Regions from separate parts of the Homo sapiens genome. Here region 2 is linked to region 1. The links come from fine-mapping of genetic effects on gene expression. A gene starts in region 1. The other region holds a variant in brackets. All regions are shown on one strand. Distances are from middle to middle.

The links. PIP is the estimated chance that this variant, and not a neighbour inherited with it, causes the effect.
Region 2: its variant is fine-mapped to the expression of ATXN10 in esophagus mucosa (GTEx, PIP above 0.99). The same link has a PIP of 0.9 or more in fibroblasts.

The regions. Positions count from the first base shown.
Region 1 is chr22:45,670,571-45,673,476 of GRCh38, reverse strand. ATXN10 (ataxin 10) reads right to left here and starts at 1,643. Exons shown (of 12, transcript NM_013236.4): 1 at 1,298-1,643. The coding sequence starts at 1,413. RefSeq lists silencers at 1,011-1,340, 1,671-1,720, 1,781-1,970.
Region 2 is chr22:45,760,095-45,763,000 of GRCh38, reverse strand. The region is part of intron 9 of ATXN10 (ataxin 10); the gene reads right to left. MIR4762 (microRNA 4762) reads right to left here and starts at 2,477; the gene lies at 2,403-2,477. RefSeq lists a silencer at 1-192 and an enhancer at 1-350. The variant A/G (reference allele first, on the strand shown) is at 1,600.

The DNA.
Region 1 (2,906 bases):
AAGGCCCATAGAGCAGTACCAGGGACTTTTATTAATAGCATTCCTTCAGCAGCTCCACATTTCCCAAAGTGATGTGAGGTAAAGGAAGTGCTCAGACCAGGTGTCTAGTTTAAAGAGAGGAAGTCCTCTAGTGATCACCTAGGCTGACCCAAGTCTCAGTATTTCTTTCTTCAATGTTCCCTCTGCTTTGTACATACATACCCCCACAGCTGTGTTATCTTGTACATACTAGTACAGGAGAGAGCAAGGACTTTCCATTTTCCTACCCCATCACCTAGCACAATAGCTGATACATGGGTAACTACCAATCAATGTGTTAAGTGATAATATCAGCTACATTTAGTGCTATGTACAGGTATGTCCTAAGGATTTAATATGCATTATATCTCATTTACTCCTTATGACACTATCACCAGGGAGGTACTGTTCAACTTTACTCCCATTAAATAGACAAGAAAACTGAGGCCCAGAGGACAGAACAAGATCAAACAAGCATTGACTGAGGGCTTCGCACATTTTATATTTTCACGTACTTTATTTCATTTATTCCTCTGTACAATCCAGCAACTAAGCTGTGTATTATAGTCCCATTTTTAGACAAGAATTCTAAGGCCTGGAGAAACTGCACAGTAACACGCAGCTTGCAAGGCCAGGAACCAAATCCACAACTGTCGACTCCTGGGCACCTTCTCTTTTTGCCTGGCTATCTTGCCCCTCAGTGGCATCAGGACTGGACTGGTCTCTCCAGGCCCGTGCTCTTCCACACTGCACAGAGCGCTGCCCCCAGGGCAGATGGTGCAGCCTGGGCTCTAACGCCGAGGAGAAAGGAGTGCCAGTCCCACTCCATGCCTAGAGACTGCCATCCCCGCAACTGCCCAATTCCCGCGTCCGTAACACGGGTCTCTCCCGCTAAAACACACGCTTTATGACTCTGGGGGCCGCGTGGGTCTTGCAGCCAGGGCCTGGCGCAGCCCTCGCACATGACAGGGGAGGCCTAACCGTGTGTTGGGTCAACATCACCGGCACGCCGCGGCAAGGGCTCCCGGGATCGCGGCTTCGCACCCGGACTGGCTGCGGTGGGGGAGCGGGGCGCCCGCCCCAGGCCCCGCGGGGACCCACGAGCACGAGGCGGTGCCTGGGAGTCGGGAGGCCTGGGTGGCGCTCAGGCAGCCCGCGCAGGCCTCGCCCTCCGCGTCTCCAGCGAGGCGGGGGCGGCGCCTGGGTCCAGGCCGGGGCCGCCGCGGGAGTCCCGGCCGCCCTCCCCTGCCCGGGGCAGCCCCCCGGCCGGACCCGTTACCGGTTCCGCTGCTCTTTGAAGAGCGCCGTGAGCGCGCGCAGGGCCTCCAGGTCTTGGATGGGCGCCGGCACCATGACGCCCGACAGCCTGGCAGGCGGCGGCCTGGGCGCCGCCATCTTGCCGCTCACAGCTGGGTCGAGCCTGACGAGGAGGAGGAAGGCGAGGAGGACGAAGGGGGAGGATGACGAGGAGGGAGGAGTAGGATGGCGAGGAGGAAGGGGGAGGCCTCGCCCTACACAGCCCTAACCGCCGCCGCCGCTGCAGCCCGCGCTGCCCTGAAGCTGCGCCGCCGCCGGAGAGCTCTAGGCTGAGCCCAGACTCGCCTCAGGCGGGAGGAGGAGACGGCGCCGCGGGGGAGGGGGCGCCGGCGGAAGTCCCGCCTGAGGGGAGGGGGCGCGGCGGAAGTTCTGGGTGAGAGCGGGGAGGGATGCTGGGGGTGATTGACTGGGAAGCGTCGCAGACGGGGCTCCTCCGAGGGGAGGGGACGCCGGGGGGAGGGGGACCTGTGTTGATGTGGCCGTAACAGGGTCTCGGTCTTGGGAGCGGGTATCGGGAACCAGAGGTTCACCCTGAGAAAGAGGGGCGCGTCCTATAGGAGGGTGCCCGCGGACAGAGGGGTCTCCCCCAGGGGAGGGGATCCGGGGGGTAAGGGGCCTGTGGAGGGTGGGGCCGTAACAAGGTCTCGGTCTTGGGAGCGGGTATCGGGGACAGAGGTTCACCTTGAGGAAGAGGGGCCCTCCTGTGGGAGGGGGCCCGCAGACAGAGTGGTCTCCCCCAGGGGAGGACATTCTGGGTGGAGGGGACCCTCTTGGGAGGAGACGCTGACTGAGGGTCTCGGGAACGAAGGGGGCCGGGCAGAGGCTCCCACTGCTAAGGCTGAAGACCTTGATCCCACTGCTCAAGTGGGTTGATCAGTGCCCCCGCCCGGGTCCACTGGAAGCTGGAGCGGTCTGTCACTAGCTTGCAAGTCTCAGGCCCTGAAAACGCACTTCCCAGTACTTACTGATCATTGCTGATCAATACCAGACCACTTACCAGGCACTTTGCCTCTAGTGAGTATACATTGCTCCAGCTCCTCAAAGCCTTAAAATACCGTTCGAAGTCAAGAAGCTAAGTTACACAGCAATAGGGTTAGAATTGTTTTTTTTCCTAAGGGAAATGAATATATTTCACAGGAATCAGACAAGGCTTCTCTAGCTGGTGTTGATAACTCACATATTTTCTTTCCACTGCCCTTTATTACAGTGTATATACTTTCAACAAAAATTGTTGCTAAGCCCTGCGCTAGGTGCTGGAGATGTAAAGATTAATAAAAGACAGTTCCAAACCTGAAGGAACCTCACAGACTATTGAGAAGGAGAGAAGCAAACATAACTGAGTATAGTTGTGAACTGCTATAACTGTACAAATTGCTGTGGGACCACTTAAAATATATAAATACATACCCTTTACATTCTGCTTGGAGGGTAGGAGTGTGCTTATAACATGGCGCTTTTAACATTCTTTGCTAAATAAAATGTAAAGATAACAATAAACACCACCAGAGTATGCAGAAAAAGTGAATCCTGGTGGGGCATGGTGGCTCATGCCTGTAATCCCAGCACTTTGG
Region 2 (2,906 bases), 90 kb before region 1:
GTGCATTCCAATCCCCTGAGGATGGTCTGATTCCGGATGCTGGGGTAGAGCCTGAGACTCTGCATCTCAGACAAGCCCCTAGGTGATGCCTCTGCAGTCCACAGTCTGGGCTGTGAGGGACTACAACAGGGATGGAGACAGACCCAAGGGAAGCCACGCAATTACTCTCACTTGGAATTTGGAGCCAAAACACAGGGGGAAGGCATCTGTCAGTGGGGGCTCCACAGCAGGGAGGGGAGGATGTGGAGAGATGGCTGGGGCCATGTGAGGTCACCAGCCTGGAGACAGGAGTAAGAGTGAGGTGGCCTCTGGGGGACCAGGAGGCAGTCCCTGAGGCCTGGAAGCCCCTTGGTTCATGCTCTGGGAGTCTGTGCTCTCCCTGTGGCCTAAACACATACACTCTTGCCCAGCTTCCCTTCAGCCAGCTGGAGAGCGAGGAGGAAGCACCCTGGCCAGACAGGAGCATGCCTGGGAGCCTCCCAGGAAGACACAACAGGTGTGCAGACACAGGTTCGGCTAGGGTGGAGCCCACCAACACTCAGCCAGAACATGCACCGTGGAAAGAATCCTGCTGCTGTGGTCTGCTTCTGACTGAAATCAACTGCTTTATCTGCTATCTATCATAACAAAGATAAATAAAAAATGAGATGTAGTCATGAAGCGGGAGTGCCTACCCTGGGTCAGGCCCTCTGTCAAGCAATGCAAAGACAGAGAAAAATAAGCCGAGGTCCCTGCGCCTCCAGAAAGAAACGCACGCTGGTCAGGGGAAACAGACAAAGGGCAAATAAATAGAAACACAGTCTCGGAAACGCACAGGGGACAGAGACTGACTTCCTTTCTACCTGTAATGTCAAGCTTTTCACTTTTTCTGCAATTGTTACAAGTAAAATACTATCTTTTATGAGTAACTTTTGTTGGTTGGCTCACTTAAACCATAAAGTGAAGTAAAAACATATGACTAAATAGGAAGTTTTTAAAAATCAGAAAACCTGGGAGTCAGAAGGCTCTTAAAGGCGAATATGGTCCATTCACCTGCTTCAGTTAAGACCACAACTACTTCATCCCAGTCAGATGTGTTTTTTTTAAAAGCCAGATTATACTTTAATCTATTTAAGTATAGTTTCAGCCCAACTGCACTGAAATCAACCTTTTCTGTTTTAGCCAACATTTTAAAAAATCTAACACAATGGTCTAATTTTTTAAAATTTTAATTAAAGGCCCATTTAGAAAAGTAACCAACTTTTGATATTCCCTGAGGTGGAACTTAAAACAGATTTTAATGTAACTGCTAACAAGGACTAAGCAAAAACTGGGAAGAAGTGTATGATAAAAAAATAGATAAATAAAGAGCAAAGGCTTGCATAAAATGTTCCAGTCACTGGATTATAATGCTTCGTTACATTTGATTTTTACCTTTTCGAGATTATACCTATGATACTGTATTACAATTTAACCAGTTATCACCTAGTCTTCCATAAAGGTTGGTGAGAAATGAAAATTAAGTAAACACAGTATTACATAAGTGCTTAGAAAAGTTTAACTGTGAAAACAATGAACAGATTTAAAAATATTCATTTGTTCATCCCTAAAAGTTTACAG[A/G]GCACTCACTGTGGGCCCGGAACTGTGCCAGGGGCCCTGGAGAGAATGAGGAGCAAACAGACATGGAGCTTACATGCTAGGCTTGTAGTGTTTTAGATGGTAATACAGTCTCTGCTCAAAATCACCAATATAAAAACATTAAAGTCCCAGCTACTTGGGAGGCTGAGGCTGGGGAATCGCCTGAACCTGGGAGGTGGAGGTTGCAGTGAGCCGAAATCACGCCACTGCATTCCAACCTGGCGACAGAGCAAGACTCCGTCTCAAAAAAATAAAATAAAATAAAATACTGAGGTCACCCTTGAAAACATAAGCCAACAATGAAAATTCAACTTCTTTCCCAAAAGGAAAACAACAATAATGAAACAGAATAAGCTACCTGAAAGAAAGCTTCCTCTTTCATTACTCTTTATCAAATTACTGTCTCTCACATATGTCCTTTTATTTCCAGGCTTATCACCACCCTCCAACCAGGCCTCCACTGCTGTAGCAACCTTTTAACTGGCTCAGGAATCCACTCCGCACACTGGGGCTCTTATCAGTGAGGATGGGCTGGTTCGTGCTGCAGTAACAAACAATCCACAAAAATCTAAGAGGCTTAAAATGAAAGTTTCTTTCTTTCTCATGCCACTTAACAGCTGTGTGGCCTTGGGTACACTACTGAACCATTCTGGCCCTCAGTCTCCTCATCTGCAACATGGGAGAGGTATCATCATTAAATGAGGTAAGAGACGAATACTCAGAACTGTGCCTAGGACACAGGACACACTCAATAAGCAACTACTATTGCTGTAATCGTTGTTATTCTTGACACCACAAATCTTGATCAGAAGCCTTCCTAGCTTCTGATCAAGGCTTCTGATCAAGATTTGGGGTATCAGAAATAATGGGATATGACTACACCCTATCATCTAGCCATCTGTCTCCCACAGTAGATCATGAGCTACTTGAGAACAAGGACTGCCTCTGACTCCACTGTTGAACTGCAGAGGTTCACAGAAAGTGGCACATGGTAAGCACTCAGAAAGTGCTTGCTGCACTAAAGGGAACGATGTTGAATAATAATCACTGGTACGTGAATAAACCCCACATGTGCTGGACATACACAGAGTCCCATATTAATGAGGGCACACTCTCAGATGCATCTGGCCCGCAGGAAACCTGACTAAAAGCACATGATGAAGATAGGGAATGTCATCTGTAGGTGGGAAAGATGGCTTTACAGGCCCAGAACCAAGCCACAGTTGAGCTAGGCCACCAGTACATGGGCTACTGCTCCCAGGGAAGTCTAAGCAAACGAAGGAGGATGT